Regions from separate parts of the Homo sapiens genome. Here region 2 is linked to region 1. The links come from fine-mapping of genetic effects on gene expression. Tissue or cell type: whole blood. Region 1 holds a variant in brackets; the other region holds the start of a gene. All regions are shown on one strand. Distances are from middle to middle.

Region 1 (8,184 bases):
AGTCAAAACTATATATATATGAATTCTACTTAGGATCCAATTTTGATATATTTAAAAAGCAATTGAGACTCATGATAGACTTTATGAGCAGGTTTAACTTGTGTGGTCGAATAAAAGCCTTTAATTTAAATGGAAAAGTAAAAGTAACTTTTTTCAGTGACTTGATTTTTTTTTTTGTTTTAATCCATTTGGGTTCACGTCAGATCATCGGTAACAAAAAGTGGTATCTTTCAGCTTTGTAAAAGAACCCTCTTAACCAAGTTCATTCCCTCAAATGGGAACTAACGTCTAGAGAGCAAAGAAACTTCTGGAATTAGTGGCTTGCTGATAATCTCATTTTATAATTTGTTCAGCAATCCAGCAAGACCAACTTTTTAAAAAAATTAATAACAGTAGTTTTATGAAAACTAAGTAAGAAAACAGTTTCCACCTATTTCTGAGGTCTCCTTTAGAAGGAGTAACAGACAGCTTTTATTTCTCTTAAAGTTATAAAAATCACAATCGCAAGTCACAATGAATACTGGGAAGGGAAATTACTTTTGCAGAGTGATCAAGTAAATGATAGCGGGGGCTAAACTTTTTTAGTAAACTTGTGAAGATTACATACAGTAAAGTGCATAAATCTTGAGTGTACAATTCAATGAATTTTTATAAGTAAACACACTTGATTCAAGAACATTTTCAGGACCCCATAAGTCCCCTTCATGTCCTGTCTTCCCAGTCATTACCCATAACCCCCAAGGTGACCCCTTTCACTATAGATTAGCTTTGCCTGTTTTGAACTTTAAATAATGTATATTCCCCACAACTGGCTTCTTTCCTTTAACATTGAGATACAACCAAGTTGTTACTTGTAACAATTTTTTGTTTGTGTGTTTGTTTATTTATTTTTGAGACCAGAGTCTCACTGTCGCCCAGGCTGCAGTGCAGTGGTGCCATCACGCGTCACTGCAACCTCTGCCTCCCGGATTCAAGCAATTCTCCACCTCAGCCTCCCAAGTAGCTGGAATTACAGGTGCCTACCACCATGCCTGCCTAATTTTTTTTTTTTTTTTTTTTTTTTGTATTTTTAGTAGAGACAGGGTTTCACCATCTTGGCCAGGCTGGTCTTGAACTCCTGACCTCATGATCCACCCGCCTTGGCTTTCCAAAGTGCTGGGATTACAGGCGTGAGCCACCGCGCCTGGCCACAATTTTTTAAATGCTGGGTAGTATTCCGTTGTATAAATACTATAAAAATATGTATACAAGTTGTGCATCCGTGTTACTATTGATGGGCATTCAGATTTTTTCCAGTTTTGGAATGGGCACTCAGAACATTTTGTACATGTCTTGGTGTACATAACATTTGCATTTCTATTGGGTATATACCAAGAGTGGAATTGCTGGCTCATAGAATAAACAGCTACCAACTAGTTTTCCACAGGGTTGTGTCAATTGATACTTTTGTAGCATTTATATGTGGGAATTTTAATACCTATAAATTTTTATTTGCCAGATATTTCTATAAAACTTAAGGCTTCAATTCTAAGAACGTTCTTATGCTTTGATTACTCTGTATTAGAGTAAATAAGCCACTCTAATGCTTCACCTTCTGTTTTTAGATATGGCTCGTGGACAGCAGAAAATTCAGTCTCAGCAGAAAAATGCCAAAAAGCAAGCTGGACAAAAGAAGAAACAAGGACATGACCAAAAGGCTGCTGCCAAAGCTGCCTTAATATATACCTGCACTGTCTGTAGGGTAAGGGGAATTGAATTGAAAGATACAGCTCTCCCGTGGGCAGTTTTGGCTTGAATAGATTAAAATTTTGAAACCATGGCAAAATAGATGCTTTACATGAAATAGTAGGTTTGAGAGCTGATTATTTTAGGTATCTATTTTCATTCACCCTTTAAACAAATATTTTTTGAATGGCTCCTGTGGCCAGGCAAAAATCTCTAGGTGCTGGGAAAACAGAGTGAACAAAACAAAATTGCTTTCCTCATATAAAATAAAGATGTCTTCATAAGGGCATATAATACACTTCACTAGCACATCATATAACTCTACACTCTTAGAGCTATATAATATGCTAGTAAGTATACCTCTAGTTATATAATTGGTTTTTTCTTCACTAAATTTATAATTAGGATGTCTGTAAAACCATATAGAGTATAATCACGTTGAGAGCTTTTCCTAGAATTAATGTGTTGTATTAGATTTGAAGAACTGTAATAATAACAGCTACTTTTGAGTGCTTACCATATGCCACACATAGAGCCAGGTGTTTTACATGTATTCACCTATTTAATCCACATAACAACCCTATAAGATAAAGTACTTTTATTGTTCTCATTTTACAGAAGAGTAAACTGACTAATGGAAATTAAACAATTTGTGTGGGGTCTCCCAGCTGGTTAGTAGAAGAGCTGGAATCTGAACTCAGGCAGTTCAGCTCCAGAGTCCACCCTCTGGACCACTACTGTACTGCCTCTCAAAGAAGTACTTCTGAAATTCCAAATCAGAGCCTCTTGCCTGTTTGTTTAAGCTCATTACCCTTGAAGTTAGTGAGTGGCAGTACCAAAGGAAACCATAGTGGAGTTAGTACACTACATATACACTCAAAATAATGAAATTGAGCAGCTTGTGATTGTTTGGAAAGAGGCAGGGTGCAAATTTTAATCAACTAGTAATGAAGAAATACCTTAATCTAAATGTGGTAGAGTAGTTACATATATTTAAAAACTCAAAACCACAGACTTTTATTTCATATTTTGTGTAATTTAATGGGTTAAGAATAAATAATTGAAGGTTCTTGCCAAGGGAAGTCAGTATAGTATAGTATTTGAGAGGTCACATATCTAGTACTAAGTTAAAATAAGGTCTTGGGCAAATTAAACTCTGGGTTTTAGTTTCCTTATCAGGTAAAATGATGCTAGTAGGAGCTAAAGATTACTTTGAAGGTTCTGTGGGAATTAAGGTAACATGCTTAATATAATAAGGGTTCAGTAAATGTTACCTATTGTTTGCTGTTAATCAGATAAGCAGAATACATTCTATGTGACCTACCTTTCTTTATAGGTGAAATGTGGGAACGTTAGGAATTTCTTTACCACAAAGTCCCTCTTCATATGCCAGTCACTAAGTTGTAGGAATTTAAAGGTGTTTTTGGGATAATTGTCTATACTGAGAAGGTTCAGGATTCTAAAAAGTAACACATTTTTATTTTATAAATAAAGTCTAGCTCTCTTTTGCACAATTTTTTGTTAGACACAAATGCCAGACCCTAAGACCTTCAAGCAGCACTTTGAGAGCAAGCATCCTAAGACTCCACTTCCTCCAGAATTAGCTGATGTTCAGGCATAAGGTTGTTTACAGGTAACTCACCTCTTTTTCTATTGGTTTGTTAATAACAGGGTTGTATACAAGACCAAAACTGTCTTCACTTATTGTGAAATTAATTTCTGCCTTCTGAGATTTTATTGCTTCCCCTTTTTAAGTTAATGTGTAACTGAAAAGTCCCTTTTTCTCAGACTATTTCCTTTCAATGCCTTTGAAACATCCAAATTTTTACTACTGTAGCCAAAAATGGGGAGATGAGTACATGCTAGCCATCTCTGATCAAAGAATGGAAGGAACTTATCAGTTTAAAGAAAATAGTGATTACAAAGTTATTTGAGAGTTTCCCTCTAAAAACAATGTACACCAATGTTCCTGAGCACCTCTTTACAATTAGTTTACTTATAGTACTTAGCAGAGGTTCTTTTTTTTCTCCCCCAACCTATCCCCTTAGCAAAGCTTCTGAGTATTAAAATATAGGGCAAAATGTAGATGTAGATATGTGCTATATAAATTTGTTTATAAATTTGTTGGTTGAAAGTTATCACTTTACACATTACATTTGGTTGGATTTTTTCCCCCTAAATAGTGGAGTTGGTGGTGGGTGTGTTGTGTGTTTCAGAATTCTTTCTTTTTAAAATAAATTCTTCAGAGTTCTGTATATAAAGTCGAGTTGACAAGTTTACCAGATATTATCTTCATAGTGTTTCTTCTTAGTTATTTGAAATGCATGTAAGTTGCATTTGTGCAATGGTAACATTCATTGAAAATTTTGCTTATGTTTTATAGGTGAATTCATGACACCTTTGACTCTTCTACTGTCTCAGACCTTAGGTAACATACCTGCAGCTGCTTTTCTAACAAACTGTTGATCAGCAAAAATAAAGGGGCTACAGAAACACTCATTTTTATGCTGTTCCCTCTTGGGCTTCATGCAAAGACA[A/G]TTCTGTGTAAATGTACAGTTGACTCTGATTTGGAAATATGAAAATCAGTCCATCCTTGTTATAAAAAATTTTTTTACAATTGTAATTATATTGATGTTCATATTGTGTAAAATAACTCATTTAATAAAATAGTACTTTGATTTACGACATCACAGGATAAATGGTTTTAGAAATTCTGTTCTAACTTTCCACATTATTTGCCTTATAAAAATCTAATGAATTCATCAGCTAGAATTGCAAGTGCAATTCTTATATCCCTTTCTCTGCTCAGTGGCAGGTTCCTCAGTTAAACTAGAGCAGACTGATTCATTAAAATTGTGCATACGATTTTATGGGCAGCTGATGATCTAGGTGAAAAATGACTTATCTGCTGCCTTAGTATATTGCGGTTATGTGTCATTGTACCCCTCTGATCATTTCCTGTGTTTGAGTTGGAATATTTAAAATTGCAGTATGACCTGGCTCTAACTGCCAGTCAGGTGTACCCTGTAGATAACTGATAGCTTCCTAAAAGCGGTTGGATTGTCAGTGAGCCCTTGTGAAAGGTTAGGTTCTAATGTATATGCCGTAATGAAATAATCATTAAGCCTATTGTTTAATGCAAAATATGGAACAAATGTGAACTGGTAAAGGTCGATCTTGATACTATATTCTTTGAAAATTCTTGAAGTTCTTTAATTTGAAATTGAAACATTAATTTTTGAGGTTTTTGGAAGTTACTATTTGGCCATTTTTACAAATGGATTTTGCATTAACAGGAAGATTGGAATGACTTGTGGCTGGATTAATTCCCAGAACCCTCTCCCTCCTTTCTTTTCTAAGTGAGTTGTTGATTTTAGGAGTTTGCTTTGTGCTGTTACCTAAAATCAGAGACTGGTGTACAGTATGACTTCCATCTGAACTTGAAAAGTATTAAAATGGGTCAATATTCACATTCTTTTAGATCTCAGGATGGGAAAATGGGTTTGTTCAGATGGATATGGTAAATCTTACCCAATTAAGGAAGGCTAATTTTAGAGTTCTTCTAATTTGCTTGTGTCAACTCTTAACTTGTAAAACTGCTGTTAACTCGGTTTAAATTTTTAAATTAATATAATAGAAAGAACACTAAAATACTTACTGGTAACTGCTTAGAGCCATTTATCTGATCCTGTGGATTACAGAATGCATTCCCTCTTCTGCTGTAGCTTATCATTGCTTTGTTTTGTAGCTCTGCATATTTTGCCCACCTTGTCTTCCCTGTAAGTTTAAGACGTTTCCAAGGAAAAGCTTCAGGGCTGATAGTTTCTTAGCAATTCCTATTCTTATGCCCTTACTTTAAAATAGTCCTTTTATTTTGTGTATTTTATTTCCTAAGTTTCAGATGTAATATCTGTTGTTTCCTAACATGTCGATTACCAGAACGTTAGAATTTTACCTAATTTCTTGTGGATATTGCAGAAGTTCTGGTTAAATCACAACTTAAAAGTTTTTAAAAGTGCTTTGAGCATATGTATATGTTTAGTGACAAATCATATAAAACCATTCACAAGTTTTGGTTTTTTTTTTTTCGTTTGTTTTAGTGACTAATTCAGGATGAAAGTTTTTTTGTTCTTGTATTTAACCCTTTTTTATAAGCAGCTGAAGACACCATATTTAACACTATATCTCAGTGATAGGGAAATAGCTGCATTGATCTTACATGAGCATAATCATCCTTATACTTCATGAGGGGATTATTAGTACAATCCCCATTTTACTGTGTTTGAGTTAAAAACCAAACATCCCTGTAATTTAATTTGAAGATTCTTTAACAGATTGCAGCAAAGTTCATTATAAAACTGTTATGGTGTCTTCAAAGACTTGATAAAATAACACTGAGAGAGAATTGGTCCATTTGTATGCTGTATTTCTATTACTTGCCAAAAGGAATGGGGTTAAGATTAAACTTGTTTCCATTCTCTTCACATGGATATTCATCCCCATGTTTAACTGACACACTGGGGGCTCAGTTGTGTGCTGTAATGTCTTATTAAAGAAGATATTAAAGAAAACTAAACTAGTCTAATTTCTTCTACATTTTAAGAGGTTTTTATATTCCCACTTTTTTTTTTCTCCTTTCTGAGCTTAGAATTGGCTCTTAAGTATAGGTTGGTAGATTTGAGGGTAGCAAGAGATTTCTTTCATTTCTCGTTTTCCCTGCAGTCTTTCCCTTTTTGAGGTCTGTAGAATACTTGGGTGGAAAAAAACTTGTCATTTTGAAACCTTACTGTATAGAATAAGTGTGAATTGTTGGAAAGGGGGAAGTGATTGGCTATTAACATAAAAATACAATTATGAAAAATACTTAGGTCAGTTAATTGAATTGGATGGGTAAGTCCTTGATGATATTGTAAGATTTGAAGTTTTAGTTTTATATTAAAGATACTATATAGGTAATTAATGACATCATAATTCAAACCTGAGATGCAGCATAAGATAGAATTTATCAACATTACTATTTTACCTAGGAAAACCCATGTTTTTAATTTTCATTAATATATGTAATGTGGCCAGGTGCAGTGGCTCACGCCTGTAATCGCAGCACTTTGGGAGGCTGAGGTGGATGGATCACTTGAGGTCAGGAGTTCGAGACCAGCCTGGCCAACATGGCAAGACCCCATCTCTACTAAAAATACAAAAATTAGCGGGGCCTAGTAGCACATGCTTATAATCCCAGCTACTCAGGAAGCTCAGGCAGGAGAATGGCTTGAACCCGGGAGGCGGAGGTTACAGTGAGCCAAGATCTTACCATTGCACTTCAGCCTGGGCAACAGAGCGAGACTCACTCTCTCTCTCTCTCTCTCTCTCTCTCTCTCTCCATATATATATATATATAATATACTGTACCTATTTTTAAATGTGGATAAAGGCCTTTTTCTATAACACAGTGATCAAACACAGTCCAAACTATAACTGAAATACTATATTTAAACCACCCAGTCTGAATTAATTCATTTGTACTAGATTTCTGGTTTTTTGGAAAGTGTTTGGTTTAGTTTTGGTCAGAGTACTTTTTTGGTCATGTACTTTTTAACAGTATATGGCAATGAAGATCAACACCAGGGAGTTGTGTTTACTGTGACTTCACATTCTGAAATAGTTTAGGCTACCTTAATTTTATTTATTGTAAAAGTTTCAGAAAAATCTTAAGAGCCTTCAGTTTGTAGGTTTAATGAAAACATCTGTCTACTTAACAAAGAAAATAGACTTTTTTAAATAAAAGTTCAACCTGTCATTTTTAATTGTAGATTGCCATGTTAAATTGAAAATATTTTTTATTTTAAATGTTGTTTTGATAAGTTTTTTTTACTGAGGTATCCTTCTTTTTTTTTTTTTTGAATAGCCATTTTTTAGCTTCTATTCTTTGAATACCGTATGGCTCCAAATTTAAAATCTGCACATTCGGAGACAGACTTTGGTCATTTCTTTATATTCACATGGGAATATCTTCAGTATGAAGTAATTGTTAATTCTGTCATTAACTAATATTATTTGAGGGTTGTAGGGAGGAAGAATATCTTTATCCCAGATCTTTCTAGGATGAACTCTTTGAGAAGTTTAAGTCACTAAGGTATTTATTGAAAATCATATATGTGAAGTTGCATTGTGAGCTGTAAAGTATTATATAAAAGCAATGTATTATACAAAGAAATATAGCAAAGTTCCCTAATCTTTGGAAATTCAGATGCATTCTGGAGATAATACATATATTTATTTACATAATTTTAGGCTATATGGCCAAGTGCTTGGTGTGTTTTATAGACAATAACTTAATGAGGTATATGTACATGTGTGCGTTTATGTGTATATAGGATGGCTTTGGGTTGAAGAGGGCAGTCTGTGCCTGGAAGTATGGGGAGTCAGCTGAGGGAGGAGTAGGAAGGAATAGGGAAATCAAGG
Region 2 (8,184 bases), 28 kb after region 1:
AATTGAAATAAAAGATAAAAATACGAAATAAAAATTTCTCAACATAAGCTCCATCAAGTTCAAGACACTCTTGTGAGCAATGATACTAGCCATCATTTAGTCCATCCCTAAAGAACTGAGGGACCTGGGAATTTAACAATGTCAGTGCAACCATTTCTTTCTTTTTCTTTCTTTTTTTTTTTTTTTTGCATTATTACTGAAGAAAAATGGGTGCCCTGTAAAGATTTGTTAAGATAAGAAATAAAAAGAAGTCAGAAGGTGCCAAATCAGGACTGTAAGGTGGATGCCTAACATGAAAACTCTCATAAAATTGCTCTTGTTTGATGAGAGGAATGAACAGGAGCATTGTCATGGTGGAGGAGGATTCTCAGGTGAAGGTTTCCTGGGTGTTTTTCTGCTAAGTCTTTGGCTAATGTTTTCAAAACACTCTCATAATAAGCAGATGTTATCATTCGTTGGCCCTACGGAAAATCAACAAGCAAAATGCCTTGACCATCCCAAAAAACTGTTGCCATGACCTTAGCTCTTGACTAGTATACTTTTGCTTTGACTGGAGCACTTAACACCTCTTGGTAGCCATTGCTTTGATTGTGCTTTGTCTTCAGGATTGTACTGGTAAAGCCATATTTCATCTCTTGTTACTTCAAAGAAATGCTTCAGGATCTTGATGTTACTTGTTTCCAATTTTCATTGAAAGCTCTGCTTTTGTCTGCAGATGATCTAGAAGCAATGGTTTTGGCATACATTGTGGGAAAGTTTGCTCAACTTTGATTTTTTCAGTCAGAATTGTGTAAGCTGAATCAATTGAGTTGTCTGTGGTGTTGACTATTGTTTCTGCTGTTAATTATCAGTCCTCTTTAACTAGGGCATGAAAAAGATGAATTTTTTCCTCACAAATTGATGTGGATGGCTTGCCACTATGGGCTTCATCTTCAACATCATCTCATCCCTTCTTAAAACGAGTTACCCATTTGTAAATTGCTGATTTCTTTGGGACATTATACTCCTAAAGTTTTCATAAAGCATCAGTGGTTTCACCATTCTTTCACTCAAGTGTCACCGTAAACTTGACACATTTGTTCTTGCTTCAATTTTAGCAAAATTCATGTTCCTCTCACAGGGGCTGTTTTCAAGCTGATGTCTTACCCTTCTGGGAGCCTCACACTAGATTCTGTTCAGACATGTTATAAAAAGTTAGTATGAGTTTATCTGGCAAAAAAAAAAAAAAAATTTGAATACATGCATAGTTTTCTCATAATATATATTTTCCATGAACTTTTGAAAACTTCTTGAGATATACACACAAGCCCAACATAGATTCTTCCACATTACTCTTTTCTAAAGCCTCTTTATCCCCATAATTCCATAAAATAATATATAACAGACTTGGCTTTGGCTTATTGGACTCTTAGTCCAACTTAGTTGTTTTTCAGCTTTAACTTTGGTGACTCATTTGTGCTCAGTTCTGATTCAGACAATGGAAAACTATTTTAGCAAGAGCTGAACTGATTTTTATTCCCCTGTTGATGTCCAAAGCTCAGCCCACCGTCATGCACTGTGCATTCACATTCTCTGTTTCTGCAAGCTTTGCTGGCCAATTTCACCAACGAACGTTGAATTGACCAAACATGTACTAAGTGCATTCTGCAGACATAACGGAGACTGAATTTTGGAGATCTTTGCTTCCCAAAGAATCCCCTGAAAAAAAAAATTTTTTTTTTACTTCTACTAAGTAGCCCAGTTTTCCAATCACATGAATTTTCTGGAATATTTTTGGAGAGAAGCAGATTTATTGAAGAGCTGTTCTTTTTTACCCCAGATATAGACAAAGTTAAATTTATTCTCTGAATATAAATCATCAGAGTAAGAAGGTAAGATTTAGTCAAGAAGATACATTTGTTGGACTATGGGTTCATCTGTGTGCAACAGAGACCTAAAGTTTCAATGGCTTAAGCAGTATTGAGGTTTATTTATCTTCCATGACAGCGTGAGAGTTTGCAGCCAAAGACTAGTATGGCGGGTCCATGGTGTCAAGGACTGCCAGGTATCTCCCATCTTATTGCTTCATTATCTCTAGGGGATGGCCCTCATCTGCATGGTCCAGGCAGGAAAGAGGAGGATAGGAATAACCCCACCCCAGAGGCTGCACCCAGCACTTCCCCTTACATACACACACACACACACACACACACACACACACACATTCCAGCTGCAAGGAAGGCTGGGAAATGTCTTTATTTTGTACAATCAGTAAAAACTGAGATTCTATCAATAAAGAAGGAGGGCAGACATTGGAGAAAAACTAGTAGACTTTCCAACATATTCCTGAAAAATTTTAAATTTCAGAAGGGGCTATAGGTGGGCCAGGCAGGAAAGAATCATTATCTCACCCAAAGAATGACATCGGGCTTCAAGTATCTAAGCCACCATCAAAAAGGCTGGTGCTCTTCCAGGTTTTTCTTTAAAGGGCATCTGTCAGGCTGGGGAGAACACTTCTCTAGGTGGCCTTGAGCCAGTATTATTGGCCCACTCAATCAGAGCTGCCCTGCAGCCTCGTTAGCACATCACAAGAACCCAGAGTGGAATTCTGGGATGGAAGAGCTGGACAGAAAGTGGAGAGAGAAGGTCCTCCCAGCGGCAAAGCTAATTAAAAGGAGAAACCTGTTTTCCACATGCACTCCTCAATATGCACACATGCTGCTTTCTTGTCATTACATGCCTCACTTGTCACCAAAGCATTTTCAATCAATTCCTGGGTGTTGTTCTTGTATCTTTAGATTTAGCGCATTCTTTCTTTAGTGCTCCTCCCTTTTATTCATCCAGCTGCTTAGAACAGTTTTCTTCAGCATTTAAACAAACCCACATACATTCCCCTCCCCCCATTTTCTTTTTTAAACAAAGCAAATGCTGCTTTCTTTTAACCGAAATAAAAGAGCCATAGACAATTCCATCTTTTAGGTCCACATGGCAGATCTCAAGTCAAGCATTCATTTTCTACCTGTGTGGAACTTTAATTAGTTTAAGTGGGAGGTCTGTGCCAAGAAACAGGCACCACATCACAGTTGGAATCTGCAGAGCAGATTGTTTTCTCTTAATAATGCTCTTTCAAACTCAATCCCGCTTGCAGTTTTGATACCAAAAACATGTGTGTTAAACAGCTACGAGTCGTTTCCGGGTCATTCGCATTAACCATGAGCTCTCCTGACAGTCTTGACCCATAACAGCAGACCTCTGTGTTTGAAGTGCTGTATAATTTACAAAGGACTGCACACACATCGTCACATGTCAGCTGCACACTTAGCCTGCTAGGAAATAATATCGCCCCCATTTTGGTGATGAAAAAATTGAGTCGTGGAATGGTTAAGTGACAGAATGAACTGAAACTGGATCCAGTCTGTCTGTGTTGCTAATGTAAGATGTTAAAGAACTGTCTATGGTTAAAAGAGAATGAGTATCTATTTTTAACAATGTGCTAAATGTTCTTTTCTTCTTTCCATGGTCCAAGATTGTCCTAAACTTTGATTTGATATAATTATTTTCCACAATCCTCTAAGTCAGGCTTTGAAATTCTTCTCTGCCTCTGGGTCTTAGTTTGCTTTGAGGTAAGGATGGCCAGTGTGGATCTTTCTTATATAATCTCTAGGTCTTATATTTTAGTTTCCTACCTGAAAATTTGTGATGCCACTTTTAATCTACGACGGTAAAGGAAAACAATTTCTCTTATATGCTATTTAAGAGTTAGGTATTTAAGATTAAAGGAACTATGTATAAATATCACTTATCCAGAAGTCTTCTGAATATTTCATTTCTCATGGAAATGCTGGATGTTTTTAAGCAACATTATCCATTATAAAACAATTCAAAAAGGGGGAAGAAAATCCTACAAAGATAACAAAAACTGTGAGGTTTTTTTTGTATGAAGTAGCCAATTTTCACAAAAAGTGCTGTTAGCGGTTTATAACACTGCTAGGAAATGTATTTTATATTAAAAATCGCTAACAGCACAGTCATTGTTTTCAAGATGCTTTAGAATGGGAAGAAATGTTCAATCTTTTTAACGTGTATCGGCATGTATAGGGTGTACTCTTTTAAAGAAAAATTTCAACTATTATAAAATCTAAGAAACTTTAAAACTGTGTCATTTATAATGTAAAATTAATGCAGCTGAGATTCAGTGGTTGACTCATAGCTCCCACATTCATCTTCAGTTCTCTTTAGCTCATATGGTTTTCTTTAAAAATTAGTGATATCAGCTAAATGGAACTATTTTCCACTCCTACCCACAGAGAAAAGTGCTTTTGTGAACATGTCAGCTCTGTTCCATCATTACATGCCATCATGCAGTGCAACAGAAGCAGGCTGGCTGTGCATACTTGATAACCAATATTAGTACAGATTTGAGAGCAAAATCCAAAGAAGATAATACTGTATTTCCATCTATTTATTTTATGCACATAAGCCACCTTTTTAGAACCAAGGAATTTTATAGCTAGACAAGATCTTGGAAGTCTTCCAATCTAGCCTCTTTATTTTGTACATATGGAAACTGAGGCACAAAGAGGTTCAGCAACTTCCCCAAGGTCACATAGCTGGTAGAGGTAGGCTGGGACTAGAACCCAGGTCTGTGTGACTCCAAAGTCTGTGCTCCTCCCACTATACTGCTTCACAGATAGGAGCTGATCTGCCTCAAATCTTCTGCCCCTTGGCCTTTCCACAACTCTGCATTGCTGCCATCTAACAGTGCCTTCCACTGGTGCCATGCTAAAGCTCGTTAGGAGGCAACTTAACATTGTTCTGTAAAAGCTCTACAGATGTAGGATGCTAGCTATCTGTTCTCCCCGGAAATCTTTTCAATTCAATTCTGCAAATAACTTAGGCTTTCCCAGACTAAGCAGTTCCTTCTCTCATTCCTGCAATTTGCTTTCCAGTTACCTTCTTCTGGACACATTCATTTCCAGTGCCCCTTCTGTTAAAATGGGCCCCACTAGAATCTCTGTTGCTGGGCACGGTGGCTCACGCCTGTAATCCCGGCACTTTGGGAGGCTGAGGCGGGTGGATCACCTGAGGTGGGGAGTTCAAGACCAGCCTGACCAACATGAAGAAACCCCATCTCTACTAAAAATACAAAATTAGGCAGACATGGTGGCACGTGCTTGTAATCCCACCTACTTGGGAGGCTAAGGCAGGAGAATCGCTTGAGCCCGGGAAGCTGAGGTTGTGGTGAGCCAAGATCGCTTCATTGCACTCTAGCCTGGACAACAAGAGCGAAACTCCGTCTCAAAAAGAAAAAAAAAATTGGCCCCACTCAAAATGGTACTCCTCCAAGTTGCTTTTTCATCCTTGTATTCCCCATGGTCATTCATCCCACTGCTGTCCTTCTGTCTCCAAGTCCTCTTTGCCTTGCTTCCTTCCCTCTCAACCCACAGCATCAGAGCAGTTTCTCCCCCAGCTGACCCTCTTTCCACTTTCAGTGCTCAATATTTTTTACTTTGCCTGTGGAAATGATCTCTTAACTGGTTTCCTTAAGTCCCTCCAGAAATGTTTTTCTAAACTCCAACAACTGTGCAAGGTCTAATTGCCATTGGTTTATCACCCACTGGACCCAGAAGCACCATCCTGGATTCTGCTTCTGCATACCCCTGTCAGCTCTGTGTCTTTAGGGACATCATTTAAACCTTCAGCTTCACTTTCTCCACTTATAGAATGAAGATGAGGAACAAGAACATCAATCTTTGAAATGATGCCAAGTATAAGCCTCTGTGTGTGTGTCTCCCCACTCCAATTTGTCCAACAGACTGCTTCCAAAGAAATCTTCCTAAAACACTGACCATCTTTTTTTTTTTTTTTTTTGGCTGCAAAATCTTTCATTTCCTCATCCCCTCACATAACTTCCAATCTTCTTGGCCTGGCACTAAGGACCTACTACAGACTGGCACTGAAATATCTTCCCTACCTTATCATTCCTTGTGCTTCTCCACAAGCCCACTCTTCCCCTTCATCATACATGTGCCGACCTTTCCTGTCTCTTTTACTTTGCAGCACCAAATGCTTTCTACTTTGTGGTCTAGGAGGAACACATGTCACTTTTGTAAGCTGCTCGAAAGCAGGGGCCACACCTTCATCCTTGTTTTCCACACAACACCAAGCACTTAGTAGACACCCAATAAATCATTGCTGAATGAATGTATTCAGCCTGGAATTGCACTAGGATTTTTTGGCCAACACATTGTATTCTTAACTGATACCAGACTTCCAATCAAATAAAATCCTTAAGCCTTTTTCATAGTCTTTAATTAAACTACTTCTCTTCCATTATTTCCCTTTGCCTACTTTTGAACTGATATTCAGAACTTTTCTGTTAATGTTTAATTTTCATCCATTATTCTTGTCTGTACAGATCTTTTTGATTTTTGACTCTCTTATCTAGTTTTTTTTTTTTTTTTTTGGCTTCCCGTTGTGTTATCCACAGGCACAATGGGTATATTGACTATCGTTCATTGAAGTTGTTGATACAAATGTTGAACAGGAGAAAAACCAGTAGCTTGCCAACTTGGCACCTCATTCTCTAGCTTGACAGTAATCTCTTATCTAGTAGTTTTTAGATATGGTTATTTAATCAAATATCACTAGCTTCTAATTTTGTTATAATTCATTCATGTATACAGACAATGAAGAATCATCTTTCTTCATTCAACACATTTATTGGGAACCAATCATTGTCCAAGGCAATATGCTAGGCATTGTGTAATAGAAAGCGATTAAGCTTTTACCCCTGTCCTCTTTGGCCTGCAAAGAGCAGGTAAGATTCATGCACAGACAAATGTAGTACCAGGTAAATAGTGAGGCCAAACACAAGAGGCAGGTCAAAGGGCTTTGGATTCAGAGGATGGAGAAGCTCTTTCTAGGCTGGTGAAATATTTGCAGAATGAGTAGGCTCATAAGTGGAGGTGAGGTACAGGCTAAGCTGCTGTAAGAAAGAGTCCAAAATGCAAAGGATTTACCACAATGCAGTTAATTTTTCTCACAACGGTCGAGGTAGGCAGGTGGTCCAAGTCCAGTTAATCAGCCCTCCTCAACACAAGGCTTCCCCTTGTAAGCTCAGGATGACCGCTCCAGTTCTCATCATCTCCCAGGCAGAAAAACGGGAGAAAGAGAACTAGACGTACCACCCAGTCATTTTAAGGACATAGCCAGGCCAGGTGCAGTGACTCACATCTGTAATCCAAGCACTTTGGGAGGTCGAGGCTGGAGGATAGCTTGAAGCCAGGAGTTTGAGACCAGCTTGGATAAGAAAGCAAGACCTTGTCTCTACAAAAAATTTAAAAATTAACCATGTGTGGTGGTGTGCACCTATAGTCCCAGCTACTCAGGAGGCTGAGGTGGAAGGATCACTTGAGCACAGGAGTTGGAGGATACAGTGAGCCATGATCACACCACCTCACTCCAGCCTGGGCAACATAGTGAGACCCCATCTCTTTAAAAAACAAAACAAAAAAACATCACCAGGAAGTTGCTTACATGTCTTCTATTCCTATAACATCGGCCTGAGCTTAGTCACATGGCCACACCCAGCAGAAAGAACTCTAGGAAATATGGTCTTATGCTAGGTAACCCCAAACCCAGCTAAAACTGTTGCTTTTGAAGAAGGGTGAAACAGACAATGTGGAGGAGAATTACCAGTCTGCCACAAAGAGAAAGAATTCTATGTGAGGAAAACGCTCTAGAAGAGGGAGCTGATTAATTAGTTATATCTCAGCCGAGAGGATGTTATGAGAAACACAGATTTGGGTTTAATAGAAAAACTTAGAACCCTTCAAGAAGGAATGGGCGGACTTGAGAGTGTCCTCCGCTTCTGAAAATGATCAAGAAAAATGGTAAGAATGTACACCTCAAGGGTGGATGGTAAAGGTCAGCCTTTAAGCCTCAATGGCGGTGTGGTTGTAGGTGGGGTGGGGGTGGAGGCCCCGAAGACAGGCAGACTACCACAGTAGCCCCGATGGAAGCAGTGAGAATGAACTGGAAGGAGCGGCTGTGGGAGCGACAACGTGATGAGAATAAACCCGGCTTGGCTCTGCCCTGTGCACACACAGGTGAGCTGTGTGCTCCCGGATGTGTCAGCTGGTATATGCGTCTGTCAGAAGGCAGCTGGGGAGCACTGTTAGCTCAGAGACTAAGAGGCAGACC

Evidence for each region. PIP is the estimated chance that this variant, and not a neighbour inherited with it, causes the effect.
Region 2: ZNNT1 starts here. The variant in region 1 is fine-mapped to the expression of ZNNT1 in whole blood (TOPMed, PIP above 0.99).

The regions. Positions count from the first base shown.
Region 1 is chr8:101,195,164-101,203,347 of GRCh38, reverse strand. ZNF706 (zinc finger protein 706) reads left to right here. Exons shown (of 4, transcript NM_016096.5): 2 at 1,605-1,741; 3 at 3,251-3,358; 4 at 4,109-6,296. The coding sequence starts at 1,607. The coding sequence ends at 3,346. Among named protein-coding and RNA genes, the nearest start is that of ZNF706, 6.4 kb to the left of the region's middle. The variant A/G (reference allele first, on the strand shown) is at 4,263.
Region 2 is chr8:101,167,160-101,175,343 of GRCh38, reverse strand. It overlaps ZNNT1 (ZNF706 neighboring transcript 1), which reads left to right and starts at 5,105. Exons shown (of 1, transcript NR_164368.1): 1 at 5,105-8,184. RefSeq lists an enhancer at 7,864-8,063.